2 separate regions of the Homo sapiens genome follow, and region 1 is linked to region 2. A link means that fine-mapping ties the variant in region 2 to the expression of a gene that starts in the linked region. Tissue or cell type: whole blood. Region 2 holds a variant in brackets; the other region holds the start of a gene. All regions are shown on one strand. Distances are from middle to middle.

Evidence for each region. PIP is the estimated chance that this variant, and not a neighbour inherited with it, causes the effect.
Region 1: ZNF500 starts here. The variant in region 2 is fine-mapped to the expression of ZNF500 in whole blood (TOPMed, PIP above 0.99). The same link has a PIP of 0.9 or more in spleen and thyroid.

What each region holds. Positions count from the first base shown.
Region 1 is chr16:4,762,854-4,771,028 of GRCh38, reverse strand. ZNF500 (zinc finger protein 500) reads left to right here and starts at 3,867. Exons shown (of 6, transcript NM_021646.4): 1 at 3,867-4,012; 2 at 4,953-5,464. The coding sequence starts at 5,051. RefSeq lists an enhancer at 2,549-2,628 and a silencer at 3,821-4,120.
Region 2 is chr16:4,741,421-4,749,595 of GRCh38, reverse strand. It overlaps DNAAF8 (dynein axonemal assembly factor 8), which reads right to left. Exons shown (of 10, transcript NM_139170.3): 5 at 6,436-6,553; 6 at 4,585-4,726; 7 at 3,084-3,221; 8 at 2,571-2,669; 9 at 1,962-2,253; 10 at 200-871. The coding sequence ends at 1,971. It overlaps ZNF500 (zinc finger protein 500), which reads left to right. Exons shown (of 6, transcript NM_021646.4): 6 at 1-1,357. Among named protein-coding and RNA genes, the nearest start is that of DNAAF8, 11 kb to the right of the region's middle. The variant G/A (reference allele first, on the strand shown) is at 3,198.

The DNA of each region.
Region 1 (8,175 bases), 21 kb before region 2:
TAAGACGGAATCTGGCTCTGTCGCCCAGGCTGGAGTGCAGTGGTGCAATCTTGGCTCACTGCAACCTCCGCCTCCCTGGTTCAAGCTGTTCTTCTACCTCAGCCTCCCTAGTAGCTGGGATTACAGGTGTGTGCCACTATGCCTGGCTAATTTTTTGTATTTTTAATAGAGACGGGGTTTTGCCATGTTGGCCAGGCTGGTCTTGAACTCCTGACCTCAAGTGATCTGCCTGCTTCGGCCTCCCAAAGTGCTGTGATTACAGGCGTGAGCCACCGCACCTGGCCTATTTAAGATTATTTATTAAAACATTTGGTAGGTTTTAATACTTCATGAATACAAATTCAAAATAATGGCTTTTGTTGTTGTTTTTAAAAAGCACATTAATGGCCAGGCGCGGTGGCTCACACCTGATAATTCCAGCACTTTGGGAGGCCAAGGAGGGTGGATCACCTGAGATCAGGAGTTCAAGACCAGCCTGGCCAACATGGTGAAGACCCGTCTCTACTGAAAATACGAAAATTAGCTGGGTGTGGTGGTGCATGCCTGTAATCCCAGGTACTTGGGAGGCTGAGGCAGGAGAATCGCTTGAACTCAGGAGGCGGAGGTCTCAGTGAGCCCAGATTGCGCCACTGCACTCCAGCCTGGGCAACAGTGAGAGTCTGTCTCAAAAAAAAATAAAATAAGTAAAAATAAATAAAAAAATATAAATAAATATAAAAATATAAATATATAAATTAAAAATAAATAAAAAGCACATTAAAACTTGCAGTTTTTGCCCCCTGAACCTTCCCCCCATCACATCCCTCTTCAACGTTTGCCCCATCACCATCCTGAATTTGGTGTTCATCCAAGTCCCAAACATTTCTTTGAACCGCATACATGTCTCTAAATCATATGTAGAATTGTTTTGCATTTTCAAAATTTATGAAAATTGTATCATATTGCCACTTGCCTTTTTTTGTTTGGCATAGCCTCCGTGAGATTTATCCATCATTCTCCTGTTGACTAACATTTAGACTGTTTTCGGTTTTGCCATTACAAACAACACTGCCCTGAACACAGAGGTAGTCTTTATTACTAACAGAATTAGGACATATTAAGCCTATATGTGTCTGACGTTCTGTTCTGTCTCTTTACCATAATGGTGCCTACTGCAGGTGATGTTACCATCCCCATTGTACAAAGGAGTTATCCTTGTCTCCCTCCTCCACCCCAAGCTAATCAACCACCAAGCACTGTTGAATGTGCTCCAGGAATCTTGGCCAGATCCTTGTCAGTGACTACCACCATCACTAGTTACCCCAACTCTGGACCACTCCAGGAGCTTCCAGCTAGTCTCACTGCTCCTCTCCAGTCTTTCTGAGATCTGTACTCCACAAAGCTTCTTATCTGATCACGATGCTATCCTACTTAAAACCCCAAACTCTATTGACTCCAAGGATAAAATCCTTAATCCTCACCAGAGTCTCCAAGTATGGTCAGGCCTTGCCCATCCCTCCAGCCACATCTCCCAATCTCTGGTCTCCATTCTGTTCCTCAAACGCACCGTGTTCTCTCCGGCCCCAGGACCTTTGCACTTTTCACTCCTGCTGTCTGGAATCCTCCCCACCGGTTCCCCAGGTTAACCCTAGGCTGCTCAACTGTCACTTCCACCCTGAAGGTATCAGGTTCCCTCTTTTACGCCGCTTGCTAACATTTGCCAAAGAAGTGATTAAACAATTCTTCGTGCAATTTTGTCCACTGTATGCCTCTCATGGTAATTTTGTCCACTGTATGCCTCTCATGGCAAGCTCCATGAAAGCAGGCACCTGCCACCACTCCATCACCCGAGCGCCTAGTTAAGGGGGCAGTTGGGAGGACTCAACGTGCAGCGTTTATGCATTTATTATGCCTGGATGAATGGTCTTGAATGAGTTACAACCTTGAGGGTTAATGTCCCCCATTAACAGATATGGAAACTGAGGTTCAGGGCGCGCAAGGGAACCGCCCGCAGTCTCGACGACAAGGACGCTGCCACCGGGAGACTGCAGCCCCTTCCTCCGAGCCCCTGGCAGTGCCGCCACTTGAGGAGACCCTCCAGGCCGCCAACCCACCCCCTCTAGAGCGCCCAGGAATCTGCCTCCGGGGAGGGCGCGGGGCGCTCTGGGAAATGTAGTCCTGCCAGCTTCCTGAATCCGGCGTCCCCAAATTTGTTTCCGGCGGGCTGAGTCCTAGCCGATGCTTTGGGAAAGACGCGCGAGATTCCGGGGGTAGATCCGGGATGCGAGGCGGGGCGCGCATGCGGGGCGGAGCTTGTGCGGGGCGGGGCGTACGTTGAGTGTACGCCTGCTGTGTATGCTGCGTTGCTGCTCACCCGAACTCGGTGCTGGGACTCTTTCCTGGGCACCCCAGGCAGAGGGAAACTCCGGATCATGTTCAACCAAAGAGGAAAAGCAGCGAGAATCCAGCATAGGAGACGGGCCTTAGGATGCCCAAGTTAGGATTAGGGGCAAACTACGTTAACCTGGTAGTTAGGAGCTGAAGTTCTGGAATCAAAGATTTGGGTTCCAATCCCATTTCTGTACTTCCTGTTTGACCTTCTCTGGGGGGTTCAATACTTAAAACTCTCAGAGCTTCAGGGTTTTGTTTTGTTTTGTTGAACCGGTAGGTCTAGTTATAGTACCTCTATTACTAAATGAGGAAGAAACGAAGTACAAATGTGTTTTGCTTGCTTGATGCTCAAGAATTGATGCGACCGGGAGCGGTGGCTTACTCCTGTAATCTCAGCACTTTGGGAGGCTGACGTGGGTGGATTGCTTGAGGCCGTTGGAGACCAGCCTGGGCAACATGGGGAAACCCCATCTCTACTAAAAATACAAAAATTAGCCGGACCTGGTGGTTCGTGCCTGTAATCCCAACTATTCGGGAGGTTAGGTAGGAGAATTGCTTAAAACCGGGCGGCGGAGGTTGCTGTGAGCCAAGGTCGAGCCACTGCACTCTAGCCTGGGCGACAGAGTGAGACCCTGTCTCTAAATAAATAAATACATACATACAAGAATTGATACCTGGCTGGGCACACCTGTAATCCTGACACTTTGGGAAGCTGAGGCGGGAAGATTGCTTGGGCCCAGGAGTTTGAGACCAGCCTAGGCACCATGGTGGGACTTCATCTCTAACAACAACAACAAAGATTGATGCCCATTATTATGTTGTCAGAAAGAAGCAGGCAGGACAAGGGATATTTGGGGTTGGACGTTGTTGGGGGCCCTCTTGGGGGAGGGTGGGCGCAAGCACTTGGCATCTCTTCCAGTTTTATCTTGAACAACTTCTGCCTTTATTTATTTTATTTATTTATTATTTATTTATTTATTTTTTGAGATGGAGTTTCGCTCTTGTTGCCCAGGCTGGAGGACAATGGCAGGATGTCGGCTCACTGCAACCTGCGCCTTAGCCTCCTGAGTAGCTAGGATTACAGGCATGAACCACCACGCCCAGGTTTCTCCACGTTAGTCAGGCTGGTCTCGAACTCCCGACCTCAGGTGATCCGCCCGCGTCGGCCTCCCAAAGTGCTAGGATTACAGGTGTGAGCCACCGTGCCCGGACGACTTTGCTGGCTTTAAAGATGGAGGAGGCGGCCAGAGGAGAGCGGAGCGGGTGTGGAACAGTGACTGGGAAAGTAGCCCAGAGGCTGCAGAGTCGCCGCACGCTCGCGCGGTCACCGAGGTGCTGGACTACGTTACCCACAATGCGTGCCTTTGAGGACCACATTAACCACAGTGCACGTCGCGGACCCGCCCACTCGGCCGTGTTGCCACGCCCCCAACGGCCGGCTTAGCCAATGGTGCCACGGCTACGTTACCCACAATGCCGCCTGCGGGCCCACCCGCACGGCCTGGTTTGCACCCCTGGTTTAGGGTCTTCGGCCCCGGCTCTGGCGTCCCTGGCTGCCAAGCCTGAGGCCCGCAGTCCTACTCCCGCCGAGACCCGCCGCTCCGGTCCTGCCCCGAACTGCCCACGGCCGGCAGCGCTTCCAGTGAGTGCGGGGGGCGCGGGGACGCGGGTCCCGGCCGAAGCTTCGATTTCGCGGCCCGCGCCAGCACCCGGGTCTGTGCCGCGGCCTCGGGTACCGCTCACCCTCCACCTGAGGGATGAGACGGGAAAGCAGCCCGGCCTGGGGGTCCCAGCTCTCCCAGGACCCTGGAATTGGGGGGCTGTCGTGACCACCCACGCGGGGGTGCCTGACGGGGCCGCGTAGGGGCTTCAGGGTTCGCCAGACCTGGACACCGGGGATCAAGTTGAGGCAGAGTCTGCAGAAAGGCCCTACTTTTCATCAGATTTCCAAAGGAACCCCTTCCATATAGGACCCACTCTAATCATGGAAAATAACGATTCTCGAGCTCTGACCGCAAACATCCCTTTTAGATTGTTTTTGTTTGAGTCTCTCTCTGTCGCCCAGGCTGGAGTGCAGTGGCGCTATCTCAGTTCACTGCAACCTCCATCTCCCGGGTTCAAGCGATTCTCCTGTCTCAGCCTCCCGAGTTGCTGGGATTACAGATGTGCTACCACCATGTCGGGCTAATTTTTGTATTTTTTGTAGAGACAGGGTTCCACCACGTTGACCAGGTGGTCAACTCCTGAACTCACGTGATCTGCCCTCCTCTGCCTCCCAAAGTGCGGGGATTACAGGCGTCAGCTACTGCCCCCAGCCATCCCTTTTAGTTCTGTCAGCAACCTGTGTGTGTAGGTCCTGTTATCATCTCTGTTTGCCCAGTGAGGAAGCAAAGCCCAGAGCCCTTCAGTAAATTACCCGGGAATTAACAGGGGGTTAATAACAAAGATGACATTCATCCACTTCCTTTTCCTTTTCCATGGTGGGGTGAGCTGGCCTTGGAACCAGGGCAGGGGCTTCCCAGGCCAAAGGGCTTATCCAGCCCCAGGGCTGCCCTTCAGATGGTTTTATCGTCTCTCCACAGGGCCCTGAAAAAAACTCTCTTCCTGTGTCTGGCCAGAGGTATAGAGAGAGACAGGTTCAACTCTAAGGCCTGAAAAGGAACAAGGCCCACCGGAAGCAATGGCCACTGTCCCTGGCCTCCAGCCCCTGCCAACCTTGGAGCAGGACCTGGAACAGGAAGAGATCCTGATTGTGAAGGTGGAGGAGGACTTCTGCTTGGAAGAGGAGCCCTCCGTGGAGACGGAGGACCCCAGCCCTGAGACTTTCCGCCAGCTCTTCCGGCTCTTCTGCTACCAGGAGGTGGCTGGGCCCCGGGAGGCCCTGAGCCGCCTCTGGGAGCTGTGCTGCCGCTGGCTGCGGCCGGAGCTGCGCACCAAGGAGCAGATCCTGGAGCTGCTGGTGCTGGAGCAGTTCCTGACTGTGCTGCCGGGGGAGATCCAGGCTCGGGTACGCGAGCAGCAGCCGGAGAGCGGTGAGGAGGCCGTGGTCCTTGTGGAAGGGCTGCAGCGGAAGCCCAGGAAACACAGGCAGCGGGTGAGTGGGGGCATTTTGACCCTCAGGTGAGGAAATGGGGCCCTGCTGCTGGGGTCTGCAGCTGCAGATTCCTTGGTCATTGGGTGACCAAGTGTGGCTGCCTGGCCCCTGAGCCCTTTTGAGGAAAGCAACTGCAAAAGATTTCTCAGCCTTGGCTAATGGGTGTCCACCCTTTGATTAACCTCATCCTACCCCAATAGCCCTTTATTAGCTAGTGCAGATGGTTTGTGAACACTGTCCTAGGGTAGGCCAAACATGTTTTTTTTTTTGAGACATAGTCTCGCTCTGTTGCCCAGGCTATGGTGGTGTGATCACCGCTCATTGCAGCCTCTACCTCCAGGCTTCAAGCAATCCTCCCACCTCAGCCTATTGAGTAGCTGGGACTACAGGCATGCACCACTACACCTGCTAATTTTGTGTATTTTTTGTAGAGACAGGGTTTCGTTATGTTGCCCAGACTGGTCTTGAACTCCTGGCCTCAAGTGATCCTCCCATCTTGGCCTCCCGAAGTGCTGGGATTACAGGCATGAGCCACTACGCCAGCCCCAAACATAGGTTTTGGTGGGAGAGAGGTCCGGCACCTTCCAAGGCAGGGAGTTGAAACTACCCCCAAAGTGGGAGAACACTGGGAAGAAAGACCAGGGGCATGGGGGGCACTTTGGTTAGAGCCCCCAGAGGTTCTAGAGCTGTGCCATGCAAAACAGTAGCTGCCAGCCACATGTAGCTTTTTAAATTATAGCTATGTACATTTATTTTACTTTTTTTTTTTTTTTCTTTTTTTTTGAGATGGAGTCTCGCCCTGTCGCCCAGGCTGGAGAGCAGTGGCGCAATCTCGGCTCACTGCAAGCTCCGCCTCCCGGATTCACGCCATTCTCCTGCCTCAGCCTCCTCAGCAGCTGGGACTACAGGCGCCCACCACCACGCCCGGCTAATTTTTTTGTATTTTTAGTAGAGACAGGGTTTCACCGTGTTAGCCAGGGTGGTCTGGATCTCCTGACCTCGTGATTCACCTGCCTTGGCCTCCCAAAGTGCTGGGATTACAGGCGTGAGCCACCGCACCTAGCCCATTTATTTTACTTTTATTTTTGTGAGACAGAGTCTCTCTCTGTCGCCCAGGCTGGAGTGATTCTCGTGCCTCAGCCTCCCAAGTAGCTGGCATTACAGGGATCTGCCACCACGCCAGGCTGATTTTTGTATTTTTAGTAGAGACAGGGTTTTGCAATGTTGGCTAGGCTGGTCTCAAACTCCTGGCCTCAAGTGATCTGCCTGCCTTGGCCTCCCAAAGTGCTGGGATTACAGGCATGAGCCACTGTGCCCGGCCACTGTGTAGAATGTTAAATTAGTTCCTCAGTCACACTGACCACCTCTCAAGGGCTCAGTCGTCACACATGGCCAGTGGCTACTGTACTGGATGGCACAGACAGGACCCTTCTGACACACCGAAATCTCTATAGACAGTGCCTCTCCACCTCCTTCCAGCCCCATTTGAAGGAGTAGAGGAAGCCTCTTACTCATTCCTGCTGCTTCAGTTTCAGTTGTGGAACTCCTTGAGATTAGAAAGAAGTCCTGCCACCTGCTGTTTCAGTTCATTTTTCAGGGCCTTGCGTGGATGGGGCACATGGGCAGTGCTGACCAGCTGCCTTTCTTCCTGTGGCAGTGCTGCTGGCTGCACACTGCTGGCCTTTTGCAGCCAACAGAGGAGGCACATCCCCTAATGCTTGACCACGGCGTGAGCTGACCGCAGTCAGAAAATCCTGCCATCGGGGTGGCCAAGAAATCGGGGTTTCTTCCCAGCCGGCCAGCCTCTTTCCTGGCCACCACAGCTTCAGTGTTTGGGGTTCCCGGCATGGCTTCCTTCTGTCACTGCACCGACACCTCTGCACACATGCCTCATGGCCATCACTGAGCTGAGAGGGGCAGGCTGTGCTCCCCAAGGGGACTACGCTCCCTTAGAGGTGTGGAATGTTGAATAAGAGGAAGCCTGAGATGGGTCCCTGACGCTGGGTTTGTAGTTGCCTAGGGATGTCTCTTGTCCAAGTGCTATTGCAGAGCTCAATTCTAAGACCCAATTTCATTCAACTCACCTTTCCTGGAATTAGGAAATAGATCATCTCAGAGCACCTGTTGATAATTTCTTTTTTTTTTCTTTTTTTTTTTTTCTTCCCTGAGATGGAGTCTCGCTCTTTTGCCCAGGCTGGAGTGCAGTGGCACGATCTCGGCTCACTGCAACCTGTACTTCCCGAGTTCAAGCGATTCTCCTGCCTCAGCCTCCCAAGTACCTGGGATTACAAGCGTGCTGCCACCATGCCTGGCTAATTTTTGTATTTTTAGTAGAGATGGGGTTTCACCATGTTGGTTAGGCTGGTCTCGAACTCCTGGCCTCAGGTGATCCACCCACCTCGGCCTCCCAAAGTGCTGGAATTACAGGTGTGAGCCATTGCAGCTGGCCAGATAATTTCAAAAAATCTAGCAAATGCAGTTCTGTGAACTTCTGAAATTAGTCCAGCGCTGACTCAGGGCTCTTCTGGCCCAGGGTCTATCCCAGGGTCTATCAGGAGGACCAAGGAATAGAGGGTAAGAATGTGATGGGGAAACGATTGTGGTGACAGGGAGAGACCATGGAGTAGAGCAGGCTGGGAGCTGGCTGCAGGGAACACTGCCACACGGCTGGGCAGAGGGAGGGAGGCTGCAGACAGCCCGGGGGTGGGCAG
Region 2 (8,175 bases):
TGATCCACCCACCTCGGCCTCCCAAAGTGCTGGGATTACAGGCGTGAGCCACCGCGCCCGGCCATGATTCTCCTTCTGTGGGTGGAGGAACTGGGCACTGGGAGCGTGAAAACCTTGCCCAGGTGGCAGAGCCAGCTTTGGACGCAGGTCTGACTTCCTACCTCACTCCCCTTGCCTTGACAGACACAGTAATTCAGAGTTGAACTTGGAACAGAGTTTATTTTCCATCACTGTAAAACATTCTCAGTGAGGTTACTGGCATTAAAAAGGTGGGAGAAATGGAAGAAAATGGGGTTGAAGAAAAAAAAAGCCTTTGCTCTTGACAGCTAGGCAGCCACAGCGGAGGCCGCCAGGCTGCGAGGGCAGCGTATGGGGGCAGAGCCCGGTTCTGGCGGCACAGGCCCCGGAGTGGAGGGGGCAGGGGAGGGTCTCTGTAGGTGGGAGAGGGCCTGGGGGCTGGGAGGCAGCCTGGCCTTGTGCCCTACAGGAGGGACCTCCTGGGACTTTATGGAAGCCTGTCTTGCCTTTGACTTGCAATGAAAATGCCCCTCATCATTGGGAGTGGGGTCGGGTGGGGGTCCCCAGTGGCCAGATCACGTGGGGTCCAGAGAGCAGACATCTGTAGCCCTGATCTTGGCGGCCAGTGACCACGGCCAAGCAGGGCCTGTCTTTTGCCTGGTACAAGGCTTGATGAGAAGAGACCCCTGCCCATCCTCAGTGGCCTGGCAGCCAGGGGTGAACCCCAGGGGAAGCTGGGACACTGTCCCAAAGGCCCGGCGCCCTACTGTGCTGCCTGAGCCCGTGGCACCGTGGGGCCCAAGGTGGTGATGATTTCTCTGCTCTTCCCACGGGGCAGACAGCAGGACACATCCTGGAGACAAGGTTGGGGAGACAAACAGGTGCCCAGGTCAGGGCTGATCACAGCAGTTACAAAAGCATCCCGTGAAGACGGGGCTGCAAGACGGTGCTGGCAAAGGAACAGGACCCAGGAAGACCAGGCTTGTCCTGTGGAGGGGCCGGGTCTTGGCAGGGGGCAAGCAGATGTCCCCAGTTTTTGCTGGTGATCAACAAGTGAGGCCGCTGCTCCATTCTACACAGGACAGCATTTCCAGGGGTTTCCAGTATTCTGTCTAGATTCATAAAGGTCAAAGGCCTTGAGAATCTATGTGTGCCTTTCTATCTTAGGTAAAGAAGAGAAAGAGAAAGCAAATTCTCGTTACTCCTCTTTCAAAAAGTTCATTAAAAGCCAGGCTGGCAGCTCACAGTGCTATAATCCCAGCACTGTGGAAGGCCTAGGCAGGAGGATTGAGAGGAGTTCCAGACCAACCTGGGCAACACCGTGAGACCCCATCTCTACAAAAAAAAAAAAAAAAAAAATTAGCTGGACATGGTGGTGTGCACCTGTAGTCCCAGCTGCTGCGTCTCGAAAAGAGAAAAAACCACGTGTATTAGATCTGTGTGGGTAGGCATGTGTGTGTCGTGTGTTAATTTAGGTGCCCAAAATAGCAAGTATGCAGGAAGCCAGAAAATAAGGCTTAGGTCTCTTTCAACCCTAAAATCCTCTAAATACGTTTTACTTGGTTTTTAAAAAGACCTTATTGATGGAAATAATAGATGCCTGTTTAAAAAAATGCAGAACTGGAGAAAGATGAAGAGCCTCAGAGTCCCGCAGAGAGCAGCACCCCGTCCTCCTGCTGTCCCTGCCCATCTCCCTCAGAGGACCAGGCCCCTTTATCCCAAAGCTGTTGTCACAGGTTACATACAGATTTGTATCTGCATCCTTCCTCTAAGTTCATGCACCTGTGACTGAGCTCTAACAGGGTGGGCAACAGTCCAAAGTCTGAGGGTCCCTGCCTCTGGAATGCCCCTGCTAGTGGAAATGCAGGAACAACAAGGGGACACCGGGGCCCAGGGTCCATGGCAAGTCAGCCCGCCCCTGCCCACTCCTGGGATCCCACTACCTGAGGCAGCTATAGTTGCTCCAGAGGAGGCATCAGGGCCTCCCTGGCTGCCCCTGGCTCAGGAACATCCCCCAGGGCTCTGGGCCTGCCTCTTGGGAGTCGAGCCTGGGCGCTCTGCCCCTTGGCACAGAGCTTCATGTGTTGCTTCCTCCCAGTTCGTGATCCAGCTGTGTCTTCAGGGGCCTGAGCCCTCCCACCCGCGGGCCCCTTGCTGGCAGGCAGCTCGGGCTGGGCTGTCCCCTTCTGAAAGGCCCTGAGCTGCTGGAGAAGCTGGCTTTTCCCGGTACAGGTCCTGTGACACAATGAGACCAAATTCACTCAACCCCGTGGGGGCCGCCCCTCCCAGCCCTCCTTACTGAAACAGGAGAAAAGCAGATGAGCCCAGCTCCCATTTCAGAGCAAGAATGCAATTCAGGCAGCCCATCACTGCTGCCACTGCTGGGACCCAGTGGACGTGGGCAGGATGATGAAAGCTGTGCCGTCCCCCTCACCCTGTGCGGTGGGTGCAGCAAGACCTCACCACAGGCGGTAAATGTGCCAGGTGGAGGGCTTGCTGCAGAAAGCAGAGGTGGGACATCTGCAGGTGGCGAGAGGCCCCTGGGTGGTTACCGTAGCCCCAGGGAGGAAGGAGATGCCCCCTCTGCGTCTCCCAGAGCTGCCATCTCTTCCTCCTCCTCCTCCTCACTGTCAGAGGAGCTGTGGCTGGAGCTGCAGGGAGAGAAATGGGTTTCTGGATGTGCCCACTCCACCTGGTGTTCCAACTCTTGTTGGGGCTTGAAGCACTCGGGCTTTGCTGGTGACCCAATGCAAGAGGTCAGCAGCCACACTGGAGGCCGGTGGACGTCCTGCCAGGAGGTGAGGACAGGTGTGGGTGATGCCCTCCAGCCTAGACGTGTTGGGCTCTATTGCATAGAGCCCAGCCCGAGGAGGTGTGCCTCATGCCCCTCTTCCCTCCCTGCAGGGACCCAGGGGGACTGTAGGCCAGCACTTTTCAATTGAGAATTGATCCAAGCCTTTTGAAGTCCCTGTTCCTCCCCATCAGGATCCACCAGAGGCTCTGTGCGGTCAACAGGCAACTCTGCAAAGTAGAGGCTGGTATGGGGTAGTCACTGCCCTCCGGACCTTTCTGGGGACAGGTGGTCTGGTAGCTCCATCTGCCGCAGGTCAATAAAGATGGTGGGGGACTCTGCGTTAAGCCTCATGCCCTGGGCCAGCTGCGGGCCTGGCCCAGCCTGG[G/A]AGCCCTGCTTCCTTGAGGCACATCTGAAATGAGAAAAGCAGGTGTTGTGGAGTCAGTTCTCTGTGATAACTCTGTGACCTGCGCTGGGTTTGTCCAGTCACAGTGCTCGTGGCTGCCACCCAGTGAGTGCCCACTCTCTACAGACGGGCACATTAAACACATTTGCTCTTTTACTCTTCAGAACAGCATGCGAGATTTAGGCCACCACTGGCCAACAGAACGTCCCTCATGATGGACATGCTCTCTATCTGTGGTAAGTGTAGCCACTTGGCACAAGTGGCTAAGTTTACATTTAAGCCAGTTTAAATCCAATGCATAAAACATTCAGTTCCTCAGTCACATTCACCACGTTAGGTGTTTAGTAGCCACACACGGCTAATGGCTGCCATGGTTAACACTGCAGTTCTCTCCATTTCTTTTTCTTTTTCTTTTTTTTTTTTTTTTTGAGACAGAGTCTTGCTCTGTCGCCCAGGCTGGACTGCAGTGGCATGATCTTGGTCACTGCAACCTCCGCCTCCTGGGTTCAAGAGATTTCTCCTGCCTCAGCCTCCCAAGTAGCTGGGATTACAGGCATGCACCAACATGCCTGGAAAATTTTTTTGTGTTTTTAGTAGAGATGGGGTTTCACCATGTTGGCCAGGCTGGTCTCGAACTCCTGACATCAGGTGATCTGCCTGCCTCGGCCTTCCAAAGTGCCGGGATTATAGGCATGAGCCACCGCGCCCAGCCAGGTGTAGCCACTTCTGTTAGGTACTTTTGGTTTCCAGACACAGAAACCCACTGCTGGTCAGGTGAAAAGGGATTCACTGGTTCTCAGATTCCTCAAGTGCGGAGCAACCAAAGTGTGGGGAGGGCAGGCATATAGAGGGGCCTTACGGGACCCTGGGGCCCTGCCTCCACCTCTGCCTCTCCCAGCTTCACTGCAGCTTGCCTTTCTCCCTGTGGCAGGACAGGTGGCTGTTGCCCTTCCACCCCTACACAGAGACACAGAGATTGAAAAATCCCGCAGCTGGGGTCACATGCCCAGAGCTGGACCAATCAGCTGTGGCCAGAGGGGCAGGGTCACATGATAACCTTCCTACTCTCAGGGAGGCCTCATGGCCTCCCATTGAAAGGAGGGTTCCCGTTGGGTTTGGGGAAAGAGCAGGTACTTGAGGGCTTGAGTCCCAGCCCTGCCATTTATGGCCAGAGAGAGTCAACCTCTCTGAGCCTTGGTTTCCCCATCTCTAAAATGGGGATGACTGGAGCGACTGCCTGATCAGATGCTTGAGAGTGACTGAGAAAATGCACATGGAGTGCCCCGCCCTTGGTAGGCCCAGTCAGTGCTACAAAACCATGGGGCCATTCTAAAGGACCACAGGAGCCGGGCCTGGCTACAAGTCCCACCTGCTTCCTGAATCTGCCTCTTTGGTGTCCTGGGGAGTGTCGGCAGGCACCTTCCGGGCACAAGCAGAGGCCTTGGACTGCGTGGTGCACAGGAGGGCCAGCTGTTCCATGAGCCTGTTGTGGGCGCTCGGCACCATGCGGTCTGAGGATGGCCAAAGGAGAGGCTGATTAGTGGGGACTTGGCCCACTTGTGACTTACAGCAGCTGGAGCCTCAGGACCCCTGGGGTCTCCACATGTGAATGGACCTCAGGCTCCTCCACTGCCCCCGCCCAGCCCTCTCCCTACTCAGCCCTCTGAGGACTCCACCTCTAGCTCAGCAGGGCTGAGGGGGGCAGAATCTTTATGAGCAGGGCCTGTGGCACAAGGGCTTGGTGAAGTAGGAGTGACGTATTTTTAAGTTTATCCCACTTCCTCACACCCCGGTCCCACTTGTCACAGGTGATCATAATGAACAGTTCTGTGTGTTGACTTAAAAAAAAAATAGGGTCATCCTCTATAGGTTTTTTTTCAACTTCACTTTTTTCACTTTGTATATTACATGCTTCCACGTTAACCTACGGAGATCCCCTCATCGAGCCGCAGTGTATTCTGTGCTAAAACGATCTAGCTGGACTCCTCCTGAATATGGGTTGTTTCCAGCTTTTCAGATTTTTAAACAACACTGCAGCAAACAGCTCTGAACACACATCTTTACCTACTAGAGTCAGAGTGTAAGACAGATTTTCTAATTGCAATAGCTTGATTAAAGGGTTATGTGCCTTTAAAACAGAGAATACATTCGGCCAAGCGCGGTGGCTCACGCCTGTAATCCCAGCACTTTGGGAGGCTGAGGCAGGCGGATCCTGAGGTCAGGAGTTCGAGACCAGCCTGGCTAACATGGTGAAATCCCGTTTCTACTAAAAATACAAAAAAAATTAGCCAGGCGTGGTGGCACGTGCCTGTAATCCCAGCAACTCAGGAGGCTGAGGCAGGAGAATCGCTTGAACCCGGGAGGTGGAGGTTGCAGTGAACCGAGATCGTGCCATTGCACTCCAGTTTGGGCAACAAGAGTGAAACTCTGTCTCAAAAAAAAAAAAAAAAAAAAAAAAGAATACATTCTGCCCTACTCCCCTCCACAAAGGGAGTGCCAGTTACACACACACATACACATGCACACACATGTCCTCCAGAATGGTTGGCTCTCTACCTCCTGCTTTATGGGATTTGAATTACAAACCAACAAAATGTATTTAACATAACACGGGCTGTCAGTCACAGGGGAGTCTTTGCTTTGGGACCAGAGGCGGAAGCGCCGCACCTGCCCTGGCTCCTCTGCCTCAGACCTGCCTCCCCTCGCCTTTGTGGCCCGAGTGGATAGGGAGGGGTTGGAGAACTTTCATTTTATTTGCAGGACTTCCCAGAGCAAAGCCATGAGTGTAGTGACAGTGGTGACATCCTTTGCCTCCCTTTTTAAATGGGGAGGCCAGGGGAAGCGGGAGCGTGCTTAGGAGCTGACTGCGCACAGAAGGTGGGGCTTCCTTCCCCCAGGAAGGAGGAGGAGGGAGAAGGAAGGCAGGCTGGCCCAGGGAGGTGGGGAAGAGGAGGTATGGGTCATGGGGTGGGGTGCGGAGGCCTCTCCTTTGTCCCTAGGACCTGGCCCACGCCTGGCACGTAGCAGGCGGTCACATATATGTTGAATGAATGAAGTCTTTTGGGGACTGGCAGCATGAGTGTTTAGGGCGGGGCCAGCAGGGAAGACTTGTGTGGGCTGCAGGACTGTCTGTGACCAGCCTGCAGCCCTCTGTGTCTGAGGGGCCCAGGAAGGTGCTGCTTGTGGGGATTCACGTGGGCTCCAGTGTTCAAGGTCAGACCTTGAACTTGGCGGTGGTCAGCTGCCCACCACACAGTTCCAGGTGCACGATTTCCCTGGTTGTCTTCTTGTCCCGCCAGACTCTGAAGGATGTCATCCAAATCCCACGCTTCAAGTTGCTGAAATCATTAAAACCAGTGATTATGAGGATGCTGAGGGGTCCCAGAGGCACAAGTACCTGCTTCACAGCTGCTGTGACCCATGGAGATGGTCACAGGATGTTGGGGGTAGAAATCAGGAATTCAGTGCATGACAGAGTTTGCAAATAGGCTGACCCCGCCTTTCCATTACAGATTGAACGCCTCCGTTAAGGTGGGCCTGCACTTTGCCACCTCCTTCCTATGCTTTCTTGGGGATCAGTACTTCACTTTTGTTTTTGGCACAAAGACGTTGTCTGACCCGAAGGAAACCCTGTATTGTTGTTTCATTTTGTTTTGTTTTTGAGACCGAGTCTCACTCTGTCGCTCAGGCTGGAGTGTAGTGGTGCGAGCTCAGCTCACTGCAACCTCCACCTCCCAGGTTCAAGTGATTCTCCTGCCTCAGCCTCCCAAGTAGCTGGAATTACAGGCATGCGCCACCACACCCTTCATTTTTTTTTTTTTTTTTTTTGTATTTTTAGTAGAGATGGGGTTTCACCATGTTGGCCAGGCTGGTCTCGAACAAACACCTGACCTCAGGTGATCCACCTGCCTCCACCTCCGCCTTCACCTCCCAAAGTGCTGAGACTACAGGTGTGAGCCACCACGCCCAGCCTAATTTTTGTGTTTTTAGTAGAGATGGGGTTTCACCATGTTGGCGAGGCTGGTCTTGAATGCCTGACCTCAAGCAATCCATCTGCCTGGGTCTCCCAAAATGTTGTGATTACAGGCATAAGCCACCGAGCCCAGCCAAACCCTGTGTTGTTTTCAGAAACACTATTTAGGTTCATACAGGTTCACAATGTTTGGAGGTTAAAAAATTTTGTTCTTTTAAGAATCAAGCTGTTCCAGGCAGGAGCTAAAACTGGAAGGCTTGGCAGTGAGTGCTTAGGGGCAGAGTGAGTCTGAGGAGGAGGGAGGAAATTAATCAAGAATTCATGTTTATCATATGACCTTTCAACTCTTTGCAGCCCTCTAAGTGGAGAAAAATAAGTTTTTAGGTGAGCAGAAAGAACGGTTGATTTAAACAGTAGTAAAGATGACTTCTGTGTATACCTGGTGCCAGTTTTCTCTAACCTGTTAAGAAAAATTATCCAAAATGTGTAAAACCGAGACGGTGTGATGGTTACTTTTCTGTCCAGTAGACAAGATAACTCCTCTAGGACATGAATGTGACAAGCGTATCTCTGCATTCCTCTCTTTTTCCCCAGTGTTTTACAAAATCCCAATTTCTTTTTTTTTGAGATGGAGTCTCGCTCTGTCACCCAAACTGGAGTGCAGGGGCGTGATCCCCATCTCCTGGGTTCAAGCGATTCTCCTGCCTCAGCCTCCCAAATAGTGGGACTACAGGCGCGCACCACCACACTTGGCTAATTTTTGTATTGTTAATAGAGTCACGGTTTCACCATGTTGGCCAGGCTGCTCTCGAACTCCTGACCTCAGATTTTCCTCCTGCCTTGGCTTCCCAAAGTGCTGGGATTACAAGCGTGAGCCATCACACCTGGCCAAAATCCCAGTTTCTTATGATCTCATTAAACCGGCACTGTCATCCTGCTGGTTCCCTCATTAATGCACTAAATACAACTTTTTAACAGGTGCTCACT